Linked DNA regions of Homo sapiens: region 1 is linked to region 2. The links come from fine-mapping of genetic effects on gene expression. A gene starts in region 2. The other region holds a variant in brackets. All regions are shown on one strand. Distances are from middle to middle. Region 1 holds the start of LOC105370910 (a long non-coding RNA gene). Region 2 holds the start of SKIC8 (SKI8 subunit of superkiller complex).

What was found. PIP is the estimated chance that this variant, and not a neighbour inherited with it, causes the effect.
Region 1: its variant is the best candidate, but not a certain one, in a credible set for the expression of SKIC8 in T cells (TOPMed, PIP 0.85).

Annotation. Positions count from the first base shown.
Region 1 is chr15:78,276,026-78,281,401 of GRCh38, forward strand. It overlaps DNAJA4 (DnaJ heat shock protein family (Hsp40) member A4), which reads left to right. Exons shown (of 7, transcript NM_001130182.2): 6 at 4,020-4,120; 7 at 4,220-5,376. The coding sequence ends at 4,435. It overlaps LOC105370910 (a long non-coding RNA gene), which reads right to left and starts at 2,775. Exons shown (of 2, transcript XR_932500.3): 1 at 2,183-2,775. RefSeq lists an enhancer at 602-896. The variant C/T (reference allele first, on the strand shown) is at 2,746.
Region 2 is chr15:78,296,426-78,301,801 of GRCh38, forward strand. SKIC8 (SKI8 subunit of superkiller complex) reads right to left here and starts at 3,184. Exons shown (of 11, transcript NM_025234.3): 1 at 3,137-3,184. RefSeq lists enhancers at 2,382-3,349, 2,902-3,251, 3,350-4,316, 3,492-3,581.

The sequences.
Region 1 (5,376 bases), 20 kb before region 2:
ACTCTGGATAATTTATAAAGTTCTTGTATATTCTCCTAGAAAAAATATTCAGTTGGGGGGAAAGTCTCAAATAAGAATCTTGGGGCTCTGAATTTTAGATGAATTCTGGCAATTAAACTTAAGTTTTTAAAAATTTATTTTTGTATAAGAAAACAGCTTAATAGGTGGTGTTTTTCTATCAAGTGGTGATTTGTGCTGATTCATCCACATGTTCCTGTAGCCTCTGTTGTTCATTACATGAGTTACATTTTAAAATAGAATTTTCCTGTAAGAAAGACTTTGCCTATCAGTTTATCCTTGGAGGTTTCCACAGGAATTGCTGGTCTGCACACACCCATGGGAGCCAGAGGGAGATGCCTCTAGGCCGAAAGGGTTCCTGAGGCCTGAGCTCAGCCCCCAACCCCCCTGTAGACACCAGGGCACTCATCTCCCAGGAGGGTTGGTGTGTTCACTGTAGTTGAGGGTTTGTGTGGGCACCAGAGCACCTGCCTAGAAGGGGCTGAGAAGGGAGAGAGGCCAGGCCAGGGACCTTGACTTGAAGCTGCTTCTGAATAGCACTAAGGTCAGCTGTGCATAGCAAAGAATGTCTGGATGGGTGTGGTGGCGGCTACGCCACCGAAGCAGCCTGGGCCCCAGCACCAGCCATTTGCAGTGTTGCTGTAGTCCCCTCACTGGCCGTGGGGCTGGGATTACCTTTTTCTATGGCCATTTGAGGTTTGGTGCAAAAGGGGTAGGTTCAGGGCAGGCAGGGAGGTAACCACCAATAAGCCTGCCCCCAGGGCAGTGGCAGCTGGAGATAAGACTCAAGTCTGGTGGGGTGACTGAGGCCTGGACTTCTGTTCCCTCCGTGTCCCTCTCCCCCTTCCCCTCCTTGTCTGCTTTTCTCTTCCCAGCCTTGTGCTCTTTTTCTCTTTCCTCTCTTGGATTCTTTCAGGTTCCTCCTTTCCTGGGGATAGTAGGAAGCAGAATTATATATCCAAGCCTTGATCGGTTTGTGGAGTTTTAAAATAAACTTATTTGGAAACAATTTCAAGCTTACAAGAAGTTGTAAATATAAAAATAGTCCGAGGCCCATCCATATATGATTTGTCTGATGTTAACATTTTACCCCATTTGGTTTGTCATTTGATCTGTGTCTGTTTTTATTTATTTTTAAAATTTGTTCATTTATTTTTTGAGACAGGGGTCTTGCTCTGTCGCCCAGGCTGGAGTGCAGTGGCGTGATCTCAGCTCGCTGTAACCTCCACCTCAGCCTCCCGAGTAGCTGGGACAGCCACATGCCACCACGCCCATCTAATGTTTGTACTTTTTGTAGAGACGGGGTTTCGCCATGTTGCCCAGACTTGTGTGTGTTTTTATACATATACTTAATCCAGGATTGGGGGAAGCACTGCAGTATAATGCAAAATTTGCATGAAAATTTAAAATAAAACACCTTCCCTTAGGCTTCCATAGACCTCCCAAGGCACCCATTTCCTCCCTCAAGGAGGAGTTTGAGGATCACAGTTTACACGAAGCTCCAGACCACTGGTTGTGAGCTCAACACCCTGGCATTGTGTCCAAGATGCCCTTACGTGGTCACAGCCCAGATCCTAGCCCTCCTGAGCCGGGGCTGGGAAGCATCTGTGTGTAACTTCTTTGGGAAAGCCTGTCCTGTCCAGGGGTGGACTATTTGAGGTCCTGGGCCCCACCAAGAGCCAGCGTTCCTTGCTGTCTCAGCTGACCCCAGCCTAGGGAGCCGGGAGCCAAATGGAGTGAGGGTGGTGGAGAAAGAGCCCCAGAGGGAAGGAAGTGGCAAATCCCAAGAAATCCATTTCCTTCTTTATTATAAGGAAGGGTGGAGCATCCAGGAAACCTGCCGTTGGAGAGTTCTTTGGGGATTTGTTTGTCCTTTTTGTTTTGTTTTTGTTTTTACTTTGTTCTCTTTTGCACCCTCTCTTTTCTTCACCCCTCTTTTGTGTTGGCTTATTTCTTGTTTCTCCATTTTCTCTTCTCCCTCTTCTTCCTCTTTTCTGCTGTTGAAATGCCTTCTTCCCCAGAGCCTTTTAGCCTGTTATGAGCATTGCTGAGGATTGGATTAATTAAAAAAGTGATTTTGGAGCCACACAAGGGTGTGATGGCCCTGCCTGCAGGCAGGTATTTACCTGCCGGGAGAGCCTAACTCGTGGTCTTCTTCTCTTACCTGTAGTTTTCCATGCTTGGTCAGTTTCCCAGCTCCCAGCAAGCTAGAAGCAGAAGCATGGGGAGTAGGGCTTGAGAGCAGCAAGAAGCGACACCTGATAGGAATGGGGAGACAGAAAAACCAGTCATATGTAACTTAACGAAGGGGATATGTTCTGAGAGATGCATTGTTTGGCGATGTCGTTGTGGTGTGAACACCATAGAATGTACTCACACAGACCTAGATAGCATAGCCTGCTACACCCTAGGCTGTGTGGCATAGCCTGTTGCTCCTGGGCTAAAACCTGCACAGCAGGTTGCTGTACTGAATACTGTGGGCAGTTGTAGTACGATGCTGAGTATGTGAGTATCTGAACATAGGAAAGGTGCAGTAAAAGTTTGGTGTAATCTTTGCAACCATCTTCATAAATGTTGTTGACTGAAAGGTCACTATGCTGTGCATGACTGTATTTCTTTTTTTTTTGAGACGGAGTCTCGCTCTGTCGCCCAGGCTGGAGTGCAATGGCGTGATCTTGGCTCACTGTACACTCTGCTTCCCGGGTTCACGCCATTCTCCTGCCTCAG[C/T]CTCCCAAGTAGCTGGGATTACAGGCACACACCACCATTCCTGGCTAGTTTTTCTATTTTTTTTTTTTTTTTTTTTTTTTAGTAGAGACGGGGTTTCACTATGTTGATCAACCTGGTCTCGAACTCCTGACCTCGTGATCCGCCCGCCTCGGCCTCCCAAAGTGCTGGGATTACAGGCGTGAGCCACCGTGCCTGGCCATGACTGTATTTCAAAAAAAAAGAATAAACAGGAACACAAAAAGCCAGCAGCCTGGAGCAGTTTAGCTAAGGGGTTGCTGTCCTGCACAGTCAGTAGGCTCTGAAGGCCATGTCTGAACCACAGCCCTGCCTGCGAATGAATCTCAAGGATAGTCATTGGCTTACTTTATTTTTAAAACCTCCTCTTTAAAGATTTCCTCTTGAAGAGACAGCTCACTTTCTACATAGTCCCGTATGGAAGTGGACTGCTGAAGAAATTAGTGTTTCCATTCCCCTCCACCGTCTCCCCCATTTTTTCCGAACATTTCTTTCTGTCTTTGTCCATTTTCATCGCTGAGCTGAAGAGCATGCTTTATCAGAAACCCTTTTGTCCCTTTCCTTTTCCATGCTTAGAGGGAAGTTTCTGACTTGGGAGAACGCCTTAGAGTTCTTGGGGTCTGAACTCCTCTGATGCCTTCCAAAGTCACGTAGCTGTAAGACCCAGCGGGTGCCAGCCGGGAGGGTGACTCCAGCTCAGCAGCATGTATGGAAGTGCATTGTGACCATGAAGGAGTCTGCCAGTGGCCAAGCCACCTAGTGAGCTCCCTACCAAGGAACCTGGGTGTCACCTGCAGGTGGCCAAGAGCCAGTTTTTATGCCAGGCAGGGGACTGGTTGGACTCTATTGAGGCTTCTTCCTGTCTGTGGGGAGCACTCCTGTCCCCCTCGTGGTAGGGATACCTGTCACCCCACAAAGAGGCAGGGTGACAGGTGTTGGCCCCATTTTAGGCAGACTTGGGTGTCATGACTTCTAGTTCACTTGTTTTAAACCTACCTGTGATGGCAGCTGCACCATGCTGCCCTCTTGACACACTGCTGGAGCCCAGAGCACAGGCCAGAGTCTCAGCCTGAGCCCCTTCCCCAGGCAGTACCTGACAAGGATACCTGGGATTGGGGCCAGCTTTCCAGTCAGATGCCACGTTTCCTTTGCCCACTGCCACGGGGCACTAGGGCCTGCCGCAGGCTCTCCCATGAGGGAGAACGACCTCTGCAGGCCCCTCTGCCTTCCTCCTTCCTAATTGACCCTTTCTCTGGCAGGTGAGGTGATAAAGCACGGGGACCTGAGATGCGTGCGCGATGAAGGAATGCCCATCTACAAAGCACCCCTGGAAAAAGGGATTCTGATCATACAGTTTTTAGTAAGTTCACTATGTTTCATTGTCATGGACATATTATTAAATGCCTTAATTGGAAGGGGAAAAAACAGCCACCTTTCTTTCCCACCTCACCCTTTACAGGTAATCTTTCCTGAAAAACACTGGCTTTCTCTGGAAAAGCTTCCTCAGCTGGAAGCTTTACTCCCTCCTCGACAGAAAGTGAGGATTACAGATGACATGGATCAGGTGGAGCTGAAGGAGTTTTGTCCCAATGAGCAGAACTGGCGTCAGCACAGGGAGGCCTACGAGGAGGACGAAGACGGGCCCCAGGCTGGAGTGCAGTGCCAGACGGCATGACGTGGTGCGGGGCAGCGTGGCCCCACCGGACTAGCACATGATGAATGTAAAGTTGGCACAATGAAAATGACATCGCTTTAATGGCCTTGTGTTTGGGATGTCCTGTGTATGTGTTCAGCATTCTTAATTGCTGAGTGTCTTTTTGGCTTTTCTTTTGGTTGTAACTTAAGTTATAGCTTAATTTATATTTAAATGTTTTAAGTATAAATCACCTCTAGTCTGCATATGGAATCTGTTCATTTCTATTTTCAGGATATACTTTTGAGATGTCAGTGATTGCACCAATACTTTGTGCTTCTAGTGGCTTTGCCATAATTCAGTGTCACCAATAAGGCACAGCCCAGTTAGCAGCTTAGCCCCCCTAGCAAACCCCAAGGCACAAAGTGGGCATCCTGACTCATCTCTAGGTCTGTGGTTTCTCCCCTCTTCCCTTGGCAGAGTTATTGAGGGCATGATCTCAGGGCTGCTAAGATAACATTTCTGAGGATTCTAGATGATCCTCTTAAAGAATAAAAGCACATCCGTGGATCGGACATGGCTGCATGTGCCTGCTTAACAGGGCCAACTTAGTTCCTACTGTTCTGTGCCCTTCAGTGGATGGAACGTGAGTGTCTGATCATCTCTCTTGGAAGTTTTCTGAACCTTCCAAGCTCTGTGGTGAGGACAAACCAGTGTTTGAATCATATGCTGATAACTGTTTGCCTGTGACCCTCACACCTTGTTCTTCAGGGTTTTAATGATTTTCTGTTGACAACTTTTGCAATGCTTTCCCACCAAAGTGCTTACTTGTAAAGAAAACTAAATCCTTCTGTGTCCCCGGCAGCCTCAGTGCAGCAACAGAAGCCAAGGGAGAATGCTGCTGGTTTGGCCCATGGCACAGCCAGCTTCTCTGACCAGTAATCCGGGGTGACTTGAGGGTCTGCAAAGGCATAGAACTCCCC
Region 2 (5,376 bases):
AAAAAAAAAAGGATAGATCTAATTTCTCAGGCTACATTAAGGGCTAATGGTTCTTATTTCTTTGTGTGTGCCAAAGACCCCCTTTGGCGGACTTTTTTTTTTCGAGATAGGGTCTTGCTCCATCACCCAGACTGGAGTGCAGTGGCACAATCATGGTCAATGCAGCTTCAACCTCCCAGGCCAAGTCTTGCTCCCACCTCAGCCCGAGTGGCTGGGACTACAGGTGCGTGCCAACATGTCTGGATATTTTAATTTTTTGTAGAGATGGGGTCTCCCTATGTTGCCTAGGCTGGTCTTGAACTCCTGGGCTCAAGCAATCCTCCTGTCTTGGCCTCCCAAAGTGCTGGGATTACAGGTATGAGCCACCAGACTCAGGCTCAGGATGTCTTTACAGAAAATACACAGGTTTAGAAATGAAACCAATTACAGTAGGTTCTCATTATTCACAACAATTATGTTCTATGAAGTCGCTACAGACACTAAATTATCCAACACAGAACCACTGTTCCTTGGGGAAACAGGTTCCTGAAAGCCTCTGGGCACATTCTTGTCAACCAATCAATACATAATCATGTTTTATGTGTGTTTATGTTTAAAGGCACTTACTGAATATACATTAGTAATTCATTAATACTGAACTCATGCCTAAACAAAGCTTATCTAACACACATATTTTCTCCATAAGACAAATCACAATCTTCTTGCATTTAGAAGCACCTCAGCACTATGCTTGGGGGCTATCTCAAACAGTGGAATCACCGACAAAAAGCACAAAGATGAGAAAAATGTAGCACCAAAGACTGCAAAAATGACATTTGCTTACAATATGAGAGTTGACAAGAAGGCAGTGTCACCTTGTTTGACTTCAGTTGAGAACATGTGCATCAGGCAACTAAAATTTTTCACGTGAAAAAATGTCATGTCTTCCAAAGACCACAAAAGCATTGTAAGTATTAATTTGAGGGCTACAGACAAATTTTAGTAAGTAGGTGAATTCATAAATACAGAATCCACAAATAATGAGGATAGACTGTATGCTAAAATTTTATCAAAATACAAAAACATATGTGCTTCTTTACTGACACATTATATATGTGATCTAGAAGCAAATTTAATAACTACCATAATTTCGAAGTTGCAATGAGCTTACACAATATCATGATATGAAAATATCTATAATTTATATTCATAACAAAGTCACACTGCTAATAATGTGATTTGTTGCCTACATTCACAGTGGAAGAAAATGCTAAATTTCAGTTGGAGGTTAGGAAACATAAAGATGCAATTTTTCCTCTCAGCCAAGTTCACGGCCCTCGCAATTCTACCCATTGGCAGTTTAAGGGACCACACAGTTAAGGCATCCAGGTTCAGGTTACTTTCTTTAAATCTGCCAGCCTAAAAAGCTGCCGAAGGTTTTCCAATAACAGGAAATCAAACAAACAAACAATTTATAACTAATCCTTGCCTATGAAGATCTCAAATTGGTAGTGTTTTGTTTTGGTTTTGTAAAGACAAGTTCTCATTATGTTGCCCAGGCTGGTATCAAACTCCTGGCCTCAAACGATCCTCTTGTCTTGGCCTTCCAAAGTGCTGGGATTACAGACAGGTTGGTAGTGTTTTATTCATTTGTGACCCATGAACAGGGTTCTTTCTGCCCAGGGTAGGAAAGACAGGAAAGTGCTCAAGCCAGTTTGGCTAATGGGAATGGTATTCAACCTCTGCTTCAGCACAGCCTTCTGCCTGCTGAAGCACAGGCTTGTCCTCTTCCCTGTCATTCTGGGCCTCACATTTGGCAATGGATAGAAACAAAAAAAGGAGGAAGGCTTGCGGTAAGCCAGCTTCCAAAAACCCGGGCTCCAAAAGACAAGGGTGTGATTCTATCAATGAGTGCACATTTGAGGATGTACAATGAATCCGGTCCTATTTTAAGTAATACACAAAGATTTAGCTCACTGAAACCTCATAACCCCGCTTACTAGGTACAGTAGTTCTTTAGCTGAGGTTTTGATTTCCACAGTTCCAGAGGTCAACCGTAGTCCAAAAATAGGTGAGTAGAGTGCAGTAAGATATTTTGAGAGAGACCACATTCACATACATTTTATTACACTGTTATAATTCTATTTTATTATTATTGTTGTTATTCTCTTATTGTGCCTAATTTACGAATTAAACTAAGTAATCACAGGTATGTATGTGTAATCTGTATGAGAAAAAACACAGTATAGATGCTCCTCAACTTACAATGGGGTTACTTCCCAATAAACCTATGTAAAGTTGAAAAATTGTAAGTCAAACCACGGTAAGTCAGTCAGGGTCCTTCACTATCCAAGATTTCAGACATCCACTGGAACGTACACCCCGCAGATAAGGGGGGAACTACTATTTTTTTATTATCAGTTCCACTTTTCTAGTAAGAAAAGGGAGGCTTAGAAGCGGTTAAGGAAGCTTCCCCAAGGGACACTAAAAGGTGGATACAAGCTATAGTATAGGCTACCAAGATACACTACCTCTTACTTCAGGGTCTTATGAAGGTCAGAGCTAAGAGACTTTAGACCTTAGCCCTCTCTTGCCATCTTCTCTCTTTGGGAAACTTTTCCCTAAATTTCCTAGGCAGAATTCATCACTGACTCAGTGTTTCCAAGGAACACTACAGATGCCTCTATGAAACTACTCAGGCAAGTCAACAGCCCACAGTATTGCACGGTACTTGGCGTAAAGCGAACCCAGCCTCTGTCTGTACCCGTCCAGTGATGTCTGTATCTGTCCAGCACGCTACCTAAGACAGCGTGGCCCACTACTGGAAAACTTCGGTTAATACAGCCCTCCCAGCTACGGATAAATGATCTCCTCCGCAGAGAAACCAGCCCTAATCTCGATACTGCCCAGAACATTCTCAGGACGCAAAAGGAGGCCACCCACGGGCCTCCCCCACTCCCCTCAGGCCCCGTACACCGAGGAACAGCCAGGGCAAATGGAGCCATGGAAGCCACCCTCAGGCCCCAGGGCCTGGAGCATCCCTGAACGGACCTGCTTACAGGCAGCCTCGGGCCCAACCTCGCTCACTCGCCCTCTGGCCTGGACTGTCAACGGCCCTAATGACCCCAATCCCCAACGGCCCTGCGCTCCAACTCACCACTGCACTGCCAGGCTGCACGTCGGAAGCCGGGCTCCGCGCGACTGCGACGCGCAAAGATGAGCTATCGAAGGGGCGGGGCATCGCGCCGGCCCCGCCCTCACGGCTCGGAGCACTCCGCAGCGCCCGTTGCCGTCGCTATGGCGGGCGCGGGGCAGACGCCGACGAGGGTGGGCGGAGAGAGGAGGGAGGAAGCCAGGTCCTGCTTCCAGAGGAGTGGTAGTTGGAAATTTGCTTCCGGAAGCGCAGACGTTTAGCTTCCGGCAACTGCAGGTTTAGAGGTTTGTGTTGCAATTTCATTTTGTACTTTTGAGATTGGACTAAAGCTAATAACTTCTGTTGCTGAAATAAATTCAGTGAAATCGAGCTTTGTCTTTCAAACTGCTAGTCATGACCCATTAACGTGACAGATATCAGTTTAATAGGTTGTCAACTGACTTTTTTTTTTTTTTTTTTTGAGGGCCAGGCAGAGTAGCTCACGTCTGTAATCCCAGGACTTTGGGAGCCGAGGTGAGAGGCTTGCTTGAGCTCTGGGTTTCCAGACCAGCCTGGGCAACATAGCGAGAGACCTCGTGTCTACTAAAAATAAAAACAATTAGCACATGCCTGTAGTTCCAGTTACTTGGGAGGCTGAGGCAGGAGGATCGCTTAAGCCCTGGAGGTTGAGGCTACATTGAGCCGTGATGACGCCACTGCACTCCAGCCTGGGGAACAGAACTAGACCCCGTCTCAAAAAAAAAAAAAGAGATGGGGCTGGGTGTGGTGGCTCATGCCTGTAATCCCAGCATTTTGGGAGTCGGAGTGGGTGGATCACTTGAGGTTAGGAGTTTTGAAATCAACCTGGCCAATATGGTGAAACCCCGTCTCAAGTAAAAAAAAAAAAAACAGAAACAAAAACAAAATTAGCCGGGTGTGGTGGCATGTGCCCGTAATCCCAGCTACTTGGGAGGCTGAGGCAGGAGAATCGCTTGAACCCTGGAGGCAGAAGTTGCAGTGAGCACAGATCACACCACTGCACTCCAGCCTGGGCAACAGAGTGAGACTGTCTCGAATAACAACAACAAAAAAAGATGGGAAGAGGCTCATGCCCCATTATGGAGGCCGCCCTGTGGCTCAGATGTGGTGGCTCACTCCTGTAATCCCAGCACTTTGGGAGGCCAAGGGGGGAGGATTGCTTCTGGCCGTGATTTCAAGACCAGTATGGGCAACATGGCGAGACCCAATCTCTACAAAAAATTTTAAAGTTACAGACGCAGTGGTGTGCACGTGTAGACCCAGCTGCTCAGGAGGCAGAAGTGAGGATCACTTGAGCCCAGGAGTTTGAGGCTGCAGTGAGCTATGATTGGGCCACTGCACTGTAGCCTGGGTGACAGAGTGAGACCCTGGCTCTAAAAAATATTTTTCGAAAAAACTAGTTTTGAAGTTCAAATATATATATAGAGAGAGAGACGGAGGACTATTAGACCACTTACAACTAGGTGAAGTTCATCTTTGGGGGCTTTTTTTTCTTTTGAGACTGAGTCTTGCTGTGTCACCCAGGCTGGAGTGCAGTGGCGCAATCTCGGCTCACTACAACTTCTGCCTCCTGGGTTCAAGTGATTCTCCTGCCTCAGCCTCCCCAGTAGCTGGGACTACAGGCACCCACCACCACACCCGGCTAATTTTTTTTTGTATTTTTTTTTTTAGTAGAGACGGGGTTTCACCATGTTGGCCAGGCTGGTCTCAAACTCCTGACCTCAGGTGCTCCACCCACCTCTGCCTCCCAAGTTGCTGGGATTACAGGCATGAGCCACTGCACCTGGCCATCTTTGGGGGCTTTTTGAGGAGGCTATGTGTGGTGAGAAATTGGCAAATACACCCACATCTCCCAGGACCTATTCTCTTGTCCTCAGTAATCTCACATTAACACAAAAGAGAAGACATCCTGCAGCTCTTCTGCTGCACACATGACTTCCCTGCATGCCAGCATCCTTAACCCTCAAGTTCACATGTTTCAGAGTGATATGACTAATTTTTCTCAGTCACATTGACTGGAGAGCTATTTCTCTCCTTCCCAGCTCTGTGACATCTCTGTCCATAGAAATTTCATCCAGCCCCAGTGGACCCTCTGCATGTCACTGGCTTAAAAAGTTTGGGTCAAAGTGAGCAGACTTCAAGACTGAATTGTCAAAATTCTTATGTGGCATCTCTTATAAGTCAAGATATCCTTGTAACCATTCTGGATCTATTGGACCAGGGTC